2 separate regions of the Homo sapiens genome follow, and region 1 is linked to region 2. The links come from fine-mapping of genetic effects on gene expression. A gene starts in region 2. The other region holds a variant in brackets. All regions are shown on one strand. Distances are from middle to middle.

Region 1 (8,328 bases), 24 kb before region 2:
TCTCAGGCACAAGGAGGAACCAGCTCTCTACTGTCAGGGCCATATATCACAGGCCCTAAAGAGCTGGCATGAATCTAGGATGAACAAGGGTGTCTTTGATTTGTCAAAACATGGGGTAGCTGATGTCTAAAATGTACAGCCCGGGGTTTCTAGTGTTTGTTGGGTCCCACCACCAAGGGCTTTCAGCACCTCCAGAGTTCCTTATGTTCCTCTTACAAACACGGGGCAGGGGATGTGACCCTCATTTCATGGTCTAATGCGTGGATGTAGCAGTCATTCTAGATCTTGTCATGTCTGATTAAGACTGCCCTTTTTCTGGGTTTCCTATGTTAGGTACACAACTTCTTCCCTCTTCCCCTGGAATTATCTAAAAGTTCCCACCTCTCATTGTGTGTCTGTGTGGGATTGGAGTGTGTGTGCACGCATGCACACGTGGCTGCATGTTGGTAATGAAAATATAGGGATGCCAGTATAAGGCTTGTGTTAGGGACCAATGAAATGGAGTTGGGGACAGAATTAAAGAAACAAATCTGCTGTTAAGACCAACCCATGCCACCCATCCTATCCCACCTCTGATCTACTGTTTGATTTACTGACTTTGAAAGGTTAACTTTCCAAAATAAGACATTTCATTTTATTTCTGAAATCAGAATAAGTCGGTGAGAGTAGAAACCACTAGGTCGAGAGCAAGAACTCTCCCCCAAAGTGGAGAGAATATTTCTCCCTACCCTGGGCTGCGGATGCCCTGGAAACGGGGCTTCTTCCTCCCACATGTTCTGCTGGCACAAGTCCCCTTGGGCGGGCTGGGCTGAAGTGGGCAGGGTTGGGCCCCTTTCACCCACCCAGAAACATGGGTTCACTGAACGTCAGGCTCTAGGATCTCGAGGGGGTCCGCAGTGCGCTTCTGACCTGGCCCAGCAAGAGCACTCCTGACAGCCTCACAGACAGAAGGAGCTGCAGCCAGGTGTGCCTGAGCCTCAGTGATCGAGCACCGGAATAGGAGGCTCAGCAAGGCGATGGGTATCACCTGTGGGGAAGAGGCAGTGGGCACTGAAGCCTGAGGGAATGAGGTCATCAGAGAAAGAACCCCGGAGGAAGGTCGGGCGCAGTGGCTCACGCCTGTAATCCCAGCACTTTGGGAGGCCGAGGTGGGCAGATCACTTAAGTTCAGGAGTTTGAGACAAGCCTGGCCAATATGGCGAAACCCCATCTCTACTAAAAATACAAAAATTAGCCAGGCATTGGTGGCTGGCACCTGTAATCCCAGCTATTTGGGAGGCTGAAGCAAGAGAATCTCTTGAACCCGGGGGCAGAGGTTGCAGTGAGCCGAGATCGCGCCACTGCACTCCAGCAGCCTGGGTGACAGAGCAAGACTCTCTCTCAAAAAAAAAAAAAAAACAGAACCCTGGAGGAGTTAAAGCATTTGATACAGGAATCAGGAGCCACTAGGTTAGATGCAAATAGGATGTTATTAAGATTAGAAGGTGGTAACAAGGTGGATTAAGAGCAGAAAGAAACCTTCACTTTGACCAGGAAAACTCCTATTCATCCTTCAAAACCCAGTCCAAAGACCCCATGAATGTGGAGGTCCTTGTGAGCAGAGTGCCACTGAGCTTTGTAAACCCAGTGCCGAACAAACTTCCTGACACACTGAAAGTACTCAAAAAGTATTTGTTGAATGACCAGCAGTGGGCAGGATACCTGTTCCTTCTCATGTGCAACCTGGACATGGCAGGAGATGGGAGCAGCCCGAATATCATCTGACAGTGGCTGGGGAAAGTGGATCGCTCGGAGGAGGCTCTCGATGCATCGAGCCTTGGACTGTCCAGAGAACCGCTAAGGAAGAAGTGGTAAGATCAGTGTCAGGCTAAAGGCCAGAGGAACTAAGAATGGAGTCAAGGGAGAAGAATAAACTATGAGAGTGAGAGGCTGGGATCCCGAGGCCTGGCTATAGAGGCTGTAGATGATTTGTCCATGTTGGCAATCCTAAATTGTAATTCCCAGGTGTAAAGAAAAACTAGGTTAAAGGGGTTGGTGGTGGGCTTGACTGGCTGGGTTAAACTGGAGGATTAATGGCAAATTGCTCAAATTTGCATGTGTGTCCCACCAATCCTGTAGGTTGGTAATCTGGACTCCCTCTCTCTAGTTTCCTCTGTAACCAAATCCATCTTGCACACTAATGTAAGACTGTTCATCTGCAAACACTGCTTCCATTTTGTCACTACCCTCCTCTCTGTCTAGCTCAGCATTGTCCAGTAGAAATATAATGCAAGGCTGGGCACAGTGGGTCACACCTGTAATCCCAGCACTTTGGGAGGTCAAAACAGGAGGATTACTTGAGCCCAGGAGTTCGAGACCAGCCTAGGCAACACAGCAAGACCCCATCTCTACAAAAAATAAAACAAATTAGCTGGGCATGGTGGCACCTGCCTATCGTCCCAGCTACTCAGGAGGCTGAGGTGGGAGGATTGCCTGAGCTCAGGAGTTTGAGGCTGTAGTGAGCCGGATGGTGCCAATGCACTGCCCTCCAGCCTGGGTAACAGCGTGAGACCCTGTCTCTAAAAAAAATAAAAATAAAGAAAAAAATATAATGCAAACCACATATGTAAGTTTAAGTTTTCAGTAGCTGCATTAAAAAAAGAAATAGGTGAAATTGGCCAGGCACAGCAGCTCACACCTGTAATCCCAGCACTTTGAGAGGCTGAGGCAGGTGGATCACAAGGTCAGGAGTTGGAGACCAGCCTGGCCAATATGGTGAAATCCCGTCTCTACTAAAAATACAAAAAAAAAAAAAAAAATTAGCTGGGTGTGGTGGCGCATGCCTGTAATCCCAGCTACTCAGGAGGCTGAGGCAGGAGGATCACTTGAACCCAGGAGGTGGAGGTTGCAGTGAGCCGAGATCATGCCACTGCACTCCAGCCTGGGTGACAGAGTGAGACTCCATCTCAAAAAAAAAAAAAATGTGATTTCACCTATTTCTCCTGACCTTGTGATCTGCCCGCTTTGGCCTCCCAAAGTGCTGGGATTACAGGTGTAAGCCACCACACCTGGCCTGAAATCAATTTTAATAATATATTTTATTTAACCCAATATATAACCCAATGTAAACAATATTAAACATTATTAGTCAGATATTTTGCAATATTTTTCTATATTCGGATTTTGTATTTTGAAATCCAGTGTGTATTTTGCAACTAGAGCACACCTCAATTTGTTTTTTTGTGGCTTTTTTTAATTTTAATTTTATTTTTTGAGAGATAGTCTCACTCTGTCACCTAGGCTGGAGTGCAGTGGCACTATCTTGGCTCACTGAAACCTCCACCTCCCAGATTCAAGCTATTCTCCTGCCTCAGCCTCCCTAGTAGACAGGACTATAGGCCTGTGCCAACATGCCCGGCTATTTTTTTATTTTTTTTATTTTTAGTAGAGACGGGGTTTCACCATGTTGGCCAGGCTGGTCTCGAACTCCTGACCTCAAGTGATCTGCCTGCTTCGGCCTCCCAGAATGCTGGGATTACAGGCGTGAGCCACCGTGCCCAGCCAGCCCACCTCAATTTGGGTGCTAGATTTGCAATGCTAAAAAGAGAAATGTAGTCCTACCAAAATATTAAAGTTACATTTAATTTAAAAAGTATACAGCTTTGGTTTTTACATAAAATTAAAAATTCAGTTCCTCAGTCACATTAGCCACATTTCAAGTGCTCAATAGCCACATGTGGCTGGTGGCCAATGTTTTGGACAGCGCAGGTCTAGCTGCATTTGGCAAAGTCCAAATTCCTGCCTGGCTTTAACCTCCCACATCCCTCCCCTTCCTACTTCTTCACAATCCCTCACTGCGCTCTAAAGTGACTTGCCACTCTGGTTAGACCTGTGTCCCTCACATATCATGCCCAGTCCCCCTTCTGGGACTTGGTGAATGACCTAACAGGAATGCTCTTCTGTCCACC[T/C]ATCCAAGCCATAACCACCAGGCCTAGCTCAAAATACCACCCCTTCCATGAGGCCTTCTTTTTGCTATAATGCATTCTGACCCCCACCTTCTTTATACCTCCACTGGACTTCAGTAAGGACCATAGTTTATTTTGGGGACCTGGTGGGTGCTCACTAAATGTTCATTGATTGATTCCTTTCACATAGGGTTGCCAGATTTTGTGAATAAAAATACAGGACATCCAAATATATAATGAAAAAAATCAAAAATATCTCAAATATTGCATAGGGCATACTTGATGGAAAAATTATTCCATATTTATCTGAAATTCAAATTTAACTGGGCGTCCTGTATTTTTATTTGCCGAATCTGGCGACCCCATTTTCATGACCATCTGTTGTGCCGTCTGCTCAACATCCACTCCTTCTGGTATCAGCACCTTGGTTTTCCTCTGAGGATCTATCGCTTCCCCATGCTCAGGTAATGAGGTTGGATTGAGGCTCACCTCCCAGCCCTTCTTCCACCACCATCCTGAAGGGAAAGCACATGATCCAGACTGGGCAGAGCATCCCTTGCTCTGGAGAACAGTGATTGCTTCAGGGACATGCATGTGTCCCAAGCAAGAGCCCCCAACCAGGCATTTGCAAGAACCACAGGACAGGCAAGCTCTTTGCCCACTAGTGTTGCTACGTAAATTGTCAGGCTGGCACTACTGGTGGCCAGTTTGCCACCTAATGGAAAAAACTTGCCTAAGAATGAGAGCAACGGCCGGGTGCAGTGACTCACGCCTGTAATCCCAGCACTTTAGGAGGCTGAGGCAGGTGGATCACCTGAGGTCAGGAGTTCGAGACCAGCCTGGCCAACATGGCAAAACCCTGTCTCTGCTAAAAAATATAAAATTAGCTGGGCATGGTGGGGGGTGCCTGTAATCCCAGCTACTCGGGAGGCTGAGGCAGGAGAATCAATGGAACCTCAGAGGCGGAGGTTGCACTGAGCTGAAATAGCACCGCTATACTCCAGCCTGGGCGATAGAGCAAGACCCCATCTCAAAAAAAAAAAAAGAATGAGAGCAACACAGGGGAAAACAGAGTTAAGGGTGGAAAGTTCTGGAACACATTAGATTCAGCTGCCCTAAGATTGTTCAGTTATATCAGCCACCATTTTCTTTGTTTAGCTTAAACCAGTATAAACTCGTTTTCCATCACGTTTGTAACTGAAAGAGTCTTGCCTAATAATTACAATTTCACAAACACACCCATGTGTGCACACACACTCCTTAAGGGGAAGATGCACCTAATAGGAGGAGCAGAAGCACACAGAAAAGGCAGCCTGTACCCTTGCACATTTCCATATCTCTACAAAATGCCCTCCTCTGGCAGCCTAAGCATTGAGGCCAGGTCCCACCCAACCCTGCCCCATCATATCCCTACCTGCAGCATGGCCAGCGCCCGCCAGAAGAGCTTGGAGTTGCTAATCCGAAGGTCCAACATGTGGTTTTGTAGGATCTTACCAAGAAGCACATGAGCACCTGTACTCACTGTATTCAGCACCCATTTGGTGCTTAGCTCACGCTGGAACTTCTGAAAAGGGCAGACACATGGGGGTGTCAAAAATTAGAGGACAGAAAAGCAGCAGAGTGAACAGGGCCCTGTTATCAGACAGGAAACCAACTGTCAAGAACCAGGGACCAAAATGCAAACATGATTTGTTTGAGCAGCCCAGCGTTTAAATGTTAGGGCAATAGATGTAAACCAGGATTGTCTCAGGCAAACCTGGTAGCTTCACCCATTTGTGTTTTTGACCCCTAGGTAGACAGACATGTTCTCTGAGTCCTTCCATATTAGAATTTTGATCCTGCTGAATTGTTCCTTTTTCTCCCCGGGTATCAGACAGGAGGAGTGGGATTCATTCCACTAAACCACAGGCTTCTTGAAAGGGCAGAGATGGTGACTTATTCTGCTCCAGGGCCCCAGTTTTTTAGACCATGACTGACACATATTTGCTGATCAATACATTTGTTGAGGCCGGGCACAGTGGCTCACTCCTGTAATCCCACCACTTTGGGAGGCCAAGGTTGGGGGATCACCTGAGGTCAGGAGTTCTCAACAAGCCTAGCCAACATGATGAAATGCTGTCTCTACTAAATACACAAAAATTAGCTAGGAGTGGTGGCATACACCTGTAATCCCAGCTACTCGGGGGGCTGAGGCACAAGAATCACTTGAACCCGGGAGGTGGAGGTTGCAGTGAGCCTAGATTGTGCCACTGCACTCCAGCCTGGGCAACAGAGTGAGACTATGTCTCAGGGGAAAAAAAAATGTTTGTTGAAAAATGAATTCTATTTAATTTTTCTAACAGCCCTACAGAATAAGTTTACCTATCCTCATTTCTACATATGAGGAAACTAGAGGTCAGAAGTAAATTAACTTGGAGAAGCTCATATGATAACGAGATGGAGAATGAGGACCTAAATCCCGGTCTTCTGATTCAATGATGAGGGCATTTCCTACTTTGCCACAAATATCTCCTGGATGAATGAGAGAACCTATGTAAAGGCATGTTGAAAACTAAAAAATTGTTCAAACATGTGGTATCGCGAGTATAAAACTGCCCCTTGTTTTTGGCCCTTATATCTTGTCCACCTTGGGGCACTTATAACACCTATTGGCACATTAGCAGGGAAACTGGGGCCCAGTAAAGGTGTTGAGGGGATTAATTAACTGGTGATATGGTTAGGCTTTGTGTCCTCACCCAAATCTCATCTTGAATTGTAATCCCCATAATCCCCATGTGTCAAGAGAGAGACCAGGTGGAGGTAATTGAATCATGGGGGGCAGGGGGCGTTCCCCCATGCTGTTCTTGGGATAGTGAGTTCTCATGAGATCTGATGGTTTTATAAGGGGGCTGTTCCCCCTTCACTTGGCACTTCTCCTTTCTGCCACCTTGGGAAGAAGATGCCTTACTTCCCCTTCACCTTCCACCATGATTGTAAGTTTCCTGAGGCCTCCCCAGCCATGCTGAACTGTGGGTCAATTAAACCTCTTTCCTTTATAAATCACCCAGTCTCGGGCAGTTCTTTAGAGCAGTATGAAAATGTACTGGCCAAGGTGGGCGGATCATGAGGTCAGGAGATTGAGACCATCCTGGCTAACATGGTGAAACCCCGTCTCTACTAAAAATACAAAAATTAGCCAGGCATGGTAGCAAGCACCTGTAAGTCAGAGCTACTTAGGAGGCTGAGGCAGGAGAATCACTTGAACCCAGGAGGCAGAGGTTGCAGTGAGCCTAGATCACGCCACTGCACTCCAGCCTGGCGACAGAATGAGACTCCATATTAAAAAAAAAAAAAAAAAAGGTACTAATACACGTGGTCCTAGCCAGGCTGAGGAAACAGGCTACTGCTACTTTTACCTCTTTATTCTGGAACTCTAGAAATAGCTGTTCACACAAAACCCTGGAAGAGGGTATATTGAAAACATTTTAATAAGTGAATGTCCACGACACTAAATATAAGAACAGCATGAAATTTCAGCATGAAACTGGCCAGTAAGTATGCAGTACTGATGCTATAGGGTGCGTGTCAGACTGCACTTTGGGAGAGAGGTCAATTAGATCTAGGTTATACCACTAACCATTGATACCATTAACATTAACACCATTAACACAAAAATATTTTAAATTTTACAAAATTTGGAGTGCGACACATTCATTTTAAAGTACACATGGAAAAATCGGCCTGGATATAGCCAGGAAAATCCTTAAAAAGAAGAATAGGCTGGGCACAGTGGCTCACGCCTATAATCCCAGCACTTTGGGAGGCTGAGGTGAGTGGATCACTTGAAGTCAGGAGTTTGAGACCAGCCTGGCCAACAGGGTGAAACCTGATCTCTACTAAAAATACAAAAGAAAATTTGCCTGGTGTAGTGGCGCGTGCCTGTAATCCCAGCTACTTGGGAGGCTGAGGCAAGAGAATCACTTGAACCTGGGGGGCGGAGGTTGCAGTGAGCCGAGATCATACCATTGAACTCCAACTTGGGCAACAGAATGAGACTCCATCTCAAAAAAAAAAAAAAAAAAAAAAAAACAAGAATGAAGAACAAACCCTATTGGATACCAAACATACCATAACGCCTCCATAATTAAAACATATGGTACCAGCACATCAATAGACAAACCAGTGGAACAGAATAGAAAGTCCATAAATAGACCAATGCACATAGAAATTGAGTATGTGACACAGATAGCATCCTAAATCACTCAGGAAAAGATGAACTTAAAAAAATTATATTGGAGCCAGGCACGGTGGCTCACCCCAGTAACCCCAGCTCTTTGGGAGGCTGGGACAGGAGGATTGCTTGAGGCCAGGGATTTGAGACCAGCGTGTGCAACATAGCAAGAAC
Region 2 (8,321 bases):
TCCCAGCAATTTGGGAGGCCAAGGTGGGCAGATCACTTGAGGTCAGGAGTTCAAGACTAGCCTGGCCAACATGGCATTCCTCATGTCGGTGAGCATCCTGGTCCCCAGTTTTCTTTTTTAGTAGAAACCCTGTCTCTACTGAAAATACAAAATCAGCCAGGCATGGTGGCATGTGCCTATAATTCCAGTTACTCGGGAGGCTGAGGCAGGAGAATCGCTTGAACCTGGGAGGAGGAGGCTGCAGTTAGCCAAGATTATGCCACTGCACTCCAGCCTGGGAGACAGAGGGAGACTCTCAAAAACAACAACGACAACCAAAACAAAAACAAAAACTAACCTTTATTTTAGGGCCAGGTGCAGTGGCTCACTCCTGTAATCCCAGCACTTTGAGAGGCTGAGCGAGGCAGGTGGAGCACCTGATGTCAGGAGTTCGAGACCAGCCTGGCCAACATGGTGAAACTCTGTCTCTACTAAAAATGCAAAAATTAGCCGGGCATTGTGGTGGGCGCTTGTGATCCCAGCTTTTCGGGAGGCTGAGGCAGGAGAATCGCTTGAACCTGGGAGGTGGAGTTTACAGTGAGCCGAAATCATGCCATTGCACTCCAGCCTGGGTGACAGAGCGAGACTCCATCTCAAAAACAAACAAACAACAACAACAAAAAACTTTAAAAACAGGCAGCTGGCTGCATTGGCCAGCCAGTATATTTTGCTTACCCCTGGACTAGTCCACCTATCTTGGTTGTTGATTGATTGATACACAGTTATTCTGAAATAGAATCCCTTCCCCATCTTCCCACATTCACACAACTTGATCCAAGTTAGTGAAACTAAAACCAAAATTCCTTGAGCAAACTTCCTGCCTTCTAGCACCGATCTCATTGATCTATCTTCCATGCTATTCCATTCCCACTCACTTCCTCTCTCTAAAATTGATCCACTCAACCCATCTTTTTACTCACAGAGAGTCCCACAGAAATGCCAATGACAATCACTCTCTTCTTCCCGGCAGCCACCTAGGAGAGGAGGATGGACAAGGTAGTGTAACTGGGAGGATTCCAGGGCACAAATCTACTGTGTGAGGATATCAGGGCCAGGAACAGGGGAGGGAGGAAATAGGCTTTGGCTGAATGCTGGGGCTTTTATGTCCCCATGAGAAGGAACAGATAGAGGTCTCTGGTCAATGTCAGTGAAAAGCACAGACCTTCTTCAGTTCCTCAATCCCGTGCAAGGCACTATCTTCTGTCCCCTCCCTAGAGGCCACCACAGACCTAAGAGGACAGACTCAAGGTCAGTGGCAGTGGCTGGAAAGCAGAAGCCTATGGCGTATTAGGGCAGGCTACATTAAGAGATGCGCATAAAGGGAAAACTATCATTGAATGAGCACCCACAGTTTGTTGGTGCATGATAGACACTCCATAGAGTTGAAAAACTCAAATACCTACAACAGCCAGTCAGGCGACATAAGTATGTGAAGTGGGCCAAGTGTGAGGGAATAAGGAATGGTGAGGACTAAGACAAGCCAGACACAATCTCTGTCTAAAGGTATTCCAACTCAATTTCTAAGAAATACTATTTAGGTCAAACAAAATATTCATAGGCTAACTTGGCTTACCTGTCACCACCTGCAATGAGGTAGGTGTAAAGAGGTTTCTGTCCCAGACCTTTCATCAGCTGATTAAAGGACACCTGTCAAGCAGGGAGAGGATGTAAAGAGGTAATGACAGAGAAGAAACAATTATCTTGGATTTTCAACTCCTAGAGGGCAGAGACTATATAATGATTCTCTTAGACCAGTGCTTAACCCAGTCCTACATGGAATCTCGCACTTAAAGCTGCTACTTGGAGATGATTAGTCGGTGGTGCATGGGATGTAGAGACATTGGCAACATACTGGCGGGACTCAGATGGGCTCAGAAGAAATGGGACTTCATGGTGACATCTAGCTTTTGGAAGAGAGAAAGAGCCAGGCTTGGAGTCCAGGTCTAGTGAGGGGGCCACCTGGGAGCTTAGTTATGATGATCTTTATGGTCCTGAGGGTCACCTCCAGAAGTGGAGGGGGAAGAAAACTGGAGACCAGGGTGCTCACCGACATGAGGAATGCCATCCGGCCAGAGGTGCCCCCTCCACTCAGCACAACCAGCCCCCCATCTGGCTCCTGAAGAAGGAAAGAGGCATATATTACCAGGGCCTGGCTCAGGTTGGGAGAAGAATATTCTTTTCTTTGTCAGTAATGCAAGAGGAATTGGAAAGACTCCTTATCCCTCCTCTCATCACAAAATTGAACAAATACATGCAATGTAGTGTAGCAAAAAGAACATTGGATTAGAGAAACCAGTTTGACTCCCATGTCTTGCTCCACTACTTGTTCAAATCCTTACTTCTCCCAGAAAGAACTGAAAGCAGCTTTGTCATCTAAATAAAAGTAAATAATAAAAGCAGCATTATCCAGCAATTATTAGCTCAGTGTATTTGAGCAAGCTACAGTGATTATCCTTTCTAAATCTTTGTTTTTTCATCTGAGGAAAACAAACAGAAGTCATATCAACTTCACAGGCTTTTGTGAGGGTAATAGGTGTGAAAGTAGATTGTCAATTATAAAGTATTAAGCAGAGAAGTTATCATTATTATTTATTAATAAGATGAAAATAAGGATCCAAAAGGGAGGATCTCCAAAAGGGAGAAAGGAGAATGAGATCTATCAAAGTGAGAAATAGAGACAGTAAAAAGAGAAAGAGGGAAACAGAAAAGTTTAGGCAGGGAACAGAAGGAAGGTTAGTACCTTCAGCACTTCCTGAACTTTCCCAGCCACCTGTACCATGGTGGTCAGAATGGATTCGCTGTAGAGTCTCTGTAGGGAATATGCAGGAATGAGAAGCCAAGAAAAGGAGGACGATGAATGGGGGAGGGGGTCTCAGGGTTTCCGATATTAGGAGCCATGGTGAGGGAGAGCAGAGGTGGGGTTGGGGTTGGCATGTTTATTTCCAGGGTCCAGGTCTTGGGTCTTGGTTACCTGGTATGTGGACAGGGCTTGCCCCTCCTCCTGGAAGATCTCAGCATCACATTGCCCTAGCAGTCGAACAATGTTCTCAGCATCTGCTTTGTCTAGATCCTGGGTCAGTGGGTTTGACTTCTCCGTGATTGGCACAGCTGCCTCGTACCCAGACAACTAGAAGGAAGAGGGGACAAGGATGGAGCAGGAAGCCAAAGCCTCATTCATGCCTGCTGAGCTGGAGGTGGGAGTGGCAGCAGGCACAGAGTTTGGACTTACACACACGCACACACATACCACACCAGAAACTCAGCCTGCACTTGGTGCTCTGGGCATATTAGGGAAAGAACATCAGGAAGGAAGAAGAGGTGAGCAGAAACCAGCGGGGAGGGAAGACTGGATGAAAAATAATTCTAGGAATCAGCACAGAAAGCCAACATGAAGAAGGGGTCTCACCTCCCACTTGCCAGGCTCCGGGGTCTCAATGACATGTTGAAACCGTTTTGTGCCTGGCATGGTCCCACGCTGTGGATACACTGTTCCTCCTGCCTCTTCAGCCACACAAACCCCTCTGGTCACAATGACTCTGCTTCCAGTTGGCAGGGCCTTATCTGAGCCCCAGTGATGATTAACCCAAGCACCCTGGGCTCTCAGAGCACCACCCTTTCCTGGTCACTAGGCCCCCAGCCCTCTGGTAACCCCAGGGAAACTCCTGGGCTTCCTCTTTGCAAGCACCCTGACTCGCCAGCCTCTGCTTTGGCCCCTGAAGAGGAAGACCTGAGGCTCGGGACTCTTGCCCTACCGGGACAATGCCCTCTTCTACAGAGGACCTGGAGCCTGGGAGTGCAGGACAACACCCACGGCAGTGAGAATCCCTGGGCAAGTGTCCTCCGAGGCCAGAGATCAGGGTCACCAAGTCAGCACAAGTCAGAGGACCTGGCCCATGGCTTGATCACATGCTCAGCACACACAGTCAGTCCCACTGGTCCCATTTTATCCTCTCCTCTCAGAAAGGAAGGCAGTAGAAGCTTCTGAGCCCCAAGTGTGCACACACTGTACTGGATATTACAGCGGGAAAAATCCCACAGAAACAGAAATACTGCATTGAGAATTAGAAACCAAAGAATCTGCCCTAAATACAATGTTAGCCAACATTTATTTACACTGAACAACACACTTTTCACAGACAGTATCTCATTGGATACACCAACACTAAGATGTTGGTCAATATTGACACCCTCATTTTTCAGATGATGAAACAGGCTCAGAGTAGTTTAGTTGGTTGCTTAAGATCACACAGCTGGACAAATTGGGACTCACACCCAGGTTCTCAATTCAGATTTCAAGCTCAACCAAAGCATGATATAATGTAAGGGCTTACATGTTATTGAACAAAGAAGTAACTAACAGATTGGTGCAAATTAATCTCCATCATCCAGTCACATAGTGTTGTGAGATTTATAAAGATCTTTCCCGTCTCATTTGAGCCTCACAACAACCCTGTGAGATTTCACACGCTTTGCTTTACAGGTGGGAAACCTGAAGCACAGATAAACCAGTTTCTCCAAAACCACACCGTAAGTGGTAGAGCTTTAGAAAAACAAAAAAAGAAAAGAAAGGAATAATAATTTTTTTAAAAAAGCCATAGGTCTTTGCGCTTTGATTCTCCCGAGAAGCCCAACACTCTTAACAATCACTGTATCTCCAGGTTTTAATATAATGCCAGACACATAGGAGATGCTCAATAAATATTTGGTGAATAAATGAAAGAATGAATGAGAAAGCGAACGGAATTAAATGAGATTATGAATGGAAAAGAGACTTAAAAGCTGACGCAGTCTACAAGTAAGGGATTGTTAAAGCAATTATTATCTCCCTCACTCTCTCCCCTCTCCTGTTAGCCCCTCGGGCACTGGAGGTGGAATTCCTCTTCCCAACTTGGCTCTTCCACGCGGGGAGGAAGGGGATCTCCCAGGTGCCGGAGACCCTAGCACCCGCGTCTCACCCCCCACGCCCCCGCCGACTCGTCCGCTTCAGCTGGGAGAGAGAAGGGATAAGGGATGGGGGCTCCGGAGGCGCCATTGGGAGGGTCGTGGGAGGAGCCCCGAGAGGACGGGAGTGAGGGGGCGGGAGGGGAATGACGGCGGCGAGAACCCCGGCTGGGCGGGGCGGGCCCGCGCGTCCCGGCCGGGCTGCGGCGGAGCGAGCGGGGCCAGCGCTGCAGAAGGCGGCGGCTGGCTCTCCGGGACGGTCACATCCCGCTGCAGGGGCGGGCGGAGGCCGCCGCACTGCCTCCCGCACCGGGGACCCAGGCCAGCGTCCGGGCAACGCCCCCTGCTCCCGGACAGACTCCGTGGCCCGCTCGAGCCCTGGGGGCTCCGCAGACCCGCGCCCGCTCCGCCCGCAGCTCGGCCCCGCGCTGCCCGCGTCGCCGGGCCCGCGCCGGGATGGGGTAGGGGCAGCGCCACCGAGTCGGGCGATGGGCCGCCCTCTGGGCACCGAGCAGCCCCCCGAGGCCTGACCAACCGCGAGGACCGGCGGAGGTGGGTGTGGGCAGGGCGGACCGCACTCTGGGGCCGCCCGGGCAATGCGGGGGCGGGAGGGCGTAGAGAAAATAGGGCTGTTGTGAGCTGTGGGGAGCCCAGGAGAGCTGCTGCCCCCCGACCTCCGTGCGTTCTGGGCAGTCCTTGACCCCCCACAACTCCTGCCATCTCCAGGAGCCCCGCCTGGATGTCAAGCGGATGCCAAGCGGATGCCACAGTTCCCCCCCCAGCGGACTCCGTGGGGACATGGCTTCGCTGGTGCCCCTTTCCCCATATCTAAGCCCCACGGTCCTCCTGCTGGTCAGCTGTGACCTGGGCTTCGTGCGAGCAGGTAAGTAAAGGGGAACGGGGCTGAGGGTCAACCACAGCTAGTCAATGGGTGAAACCTGTTAAACACCCTGGCTCCCGCAGACCGGCCTCCCTCTCCTGTGAATGTGACGGTCACTCACCTCAGAGCCAACTCGGCCACTGTGTCCTGGGACGTCCCAGAAGGCAACATCGTCATTGGCTACTCCATTTCCCAGCAAGTATGAATCACCCTTCTGCTCCCCCAACCTGTGTCCTTGGATTTCGGCACATTTCTTCACTTAAGTGGGGGGGATCTGGAAGCTGGCGTATCCTGGCTCAGGCTGCCCTTTTCACGCTACTCCCCCGGAGTGCTTGGATGTTGAAGAGTCTCTGGTTGAGCCTTGTGGCCTGGCACTGGGGTGAGGCTGTCCTCCTCTCCCCTCATCTCCCTGCAGCGGCAGAATGGCCCCGGGCAGCGTGTGATTCGGGAGGTGAACACCACCACCCGGGCCTGTGCCCTCTGGGGCCTGGCTGAAGACAGTGACTACACAGTGCAGGTCAGGAGCATCGGCCTTCGGGGAGAGAGTCCCCCAGGGCCCCGGGTGCACTTCCGAACTCTCAAGGGTTCTGACCGGCTACCTTCAAACAGTTCAAGCCCAGGTGAGGATCTGTGCTATTGGATTCTCTGGCTGCTTACCTGGCTTGCAGCCTCTTACTTACTTCCCCAAGACAAGCAACAGACTAGCTGAGTTGAATAGGATGATTTAATTCATTGTACTGCCAGGAAAGGAAAGAAAAGCAGGTGGGAAGGGGATTGGGTATAGACAGGCTGGTATTGAGTTGTTTGGGGGAAGGCCTTTTAAGCTTCCTGTTACCCAACTTCACATCAGCTGCAGCCTGCATGAGTGAGTAATTAACCTGCAGCCATCCCGCTTTTTGGTCGCTAACCACCTGTCCACCAACGGCTTCCTCCCAGGGAGGGGCTACCCTACACTCCAAGGGCAACATTATGATGGGTCCACCCTTTCTAATCCCCAGCATCTCCATCCTGCATGTCTGCAGTATGGACCCCAGTAACCTGGAGTCTGCCTTCTGCCTTCTCCCTTCTCAGGTGACATCACAGTGGAAGGTCTGGATGGAGAGCGGCCACTGCAGACTGGGGAAGTGGTCATCATTGTGGTGGTGTTGCTCATGTGGGCTGGTGAGTAAGCAGCTAGACAGGGGACCAGGGACTCAGTAAAGGTGTGAGGTGGCAAAGGTTGTCAGGAGAAAAAGAAGTGAGAGATACAGTGGCTCACGCCTGTAATCCCAGCACTTTGGGAGGCCAAGGCAGGCAGATCACCTGAGGTCAGGAGTTTGAGACCAGCCTGGCCAACATGGTGAAACCCGTCTCTACTAAAAATACAAAAATTAGCAGAGTGTGGTGGAGGGCGCCTGTAACCCCAGCTACTCAGGAGGCTGAGGCAGAAGAATTGCTTGAACTCAGGAGGTGGAAGTTGCAGTGAGCGAGCCGAGATCATGCCACTGCACTCCAGCCTGGGCAACAGAACGAGACTCTGTCTCAAAAAAAAAAAAAAAAAAAAAGTAAGAGAAATAGAGTGGAGTGGGGAGATACTTAGTTCAGGAGGGATGATTTGAACTTTGAAGAGAGGGAGAGGAGGCTGTTGAGAGCCCAGAGAGGAGGACTGCATGGGCACCAGGAATTCAGGATGTTCTTCATGGATTTTCTAGAAGCTACGTAGGTATCTCCCTATGAGGGGGGAAGTGGAGATGAAGGCTCAGACTGTATTGTGTTTCAGCTGTAATTGGGCTGTTCTGCCGTCAGTATGACATCATCAAGGACAATGACTCCAACAACAATCCCAAGGAGAAGGGAAAGGGGCCGGAACAGAGTCCTCAGGGAAGGCCAGTGGGGACAAGACAGGTGATGTGGGGGCCAGTGAGGGCGGAAAGGGTGATTCTGCCCCTGAGGGGCAGCCAGGGAAAGGAAGAAGGTCAAAGAGGGGCAGAAAAAGATGGAGAATGGAAGATCTGGGATGGGGGAGGCTGGAGAGAAAGGGTGGCACCTATTACCTTCCTGAAGTTGAGACTCAGGCCATTTTCTTTCACAGAAAAAGTCACCATCTATCAACACCATCGACGTTTGAGTGAAGAAACACACCCAGAAGAGAGATGCACTAACAACTGGGGATAGGGATGGGGTCAGGGGGAGCCCAAGATGGTGATCTGCCCGAGACTCCCAGAGGGTAATGCCACTCCCACAATCTCAGGCCTGGTACCCATCCTCTTTCCACTGTGAGCAGAGCCAGAAGGTAGGTCTGTTCAGAGTCTGTGCCCCTGGACCTGGGGAGTGGATATCAGATGGGATATCTCCTTCCATTCCCCGGTCCAGGGGAGAGTCACTAGTTGTACCCTACTCCATTAGGTCCCAAATGGGGGCCCCATTTCACCTGTATCAGGACTCTGAGCATCCCCAGCTGCCCCACATCTTGCCTCTGGCC

Which allele goes with the higher level. Positions count from the first base shown, and alleles are read on the strand shown. Sizes are in standard deviations (SD) of each study's normalised expression.
As copies of T replace C in region 1, the expression in thyroid of the gene that starts at base 5,210 in region 2 goes down (moderate effect, 0.50 SD a copy in GTEx).

The links.
Region 1: its variant is fine-mapped to the expression of FNDC4 in thyroid (GTEx, PIP 0.99).

Annotation. Positions count from the first base shown.
Region 1 is chr2:27,515,968-27,524,295 of GRCh38, reverse strand. GCKR (glucokinase regulator) reads right to left here. Exons shown (of 19, transcript NM_001486.4): 17 at 5,359-5,508; 18 at 1,702-1,836; 19 at 612-1,027. The coding sequence ends at 857. Among named protein-coding and RNA genes, the nearest start is that of SPATA31H1, 17 kb to the left of the region's middle. The variant T/C (reference allele first, on the strand shown) is at 3,948.
Region 2 is chr2:27,492,089-27,500,409 of GRCh38, reverse strand. FNDC4 (fibronectin type III domain containing 4) reads left to right here and starts at 5,210. Exons shown (of 7, transcript NM_022823.3): 1 at 5,210-5,532; 2 at 5,707-5,863; 3 at 5,944-6,059; 4 at 6,276-6,480; 5 at 6,932-7,021; 6 at 7,620-7,744; 7 at 7,932-8,321. The coding sequence starts at 5,731. The coding sequence ends at 7,967. It overlaps GCKR (glucokinase regulator), which reads right to left and starts at 3,571. Exons shown (of 19, transcript NM_001486.4): 1 at 3,446-3,571; 2 at 3,011-3,166; 3 at 2,780-2,848; 4 at 2,087-2,155; 5 at 1,613-1,686; 6 at 1,202-1,268; 7 at 960-1,013. The coding sequence starts at 3,505.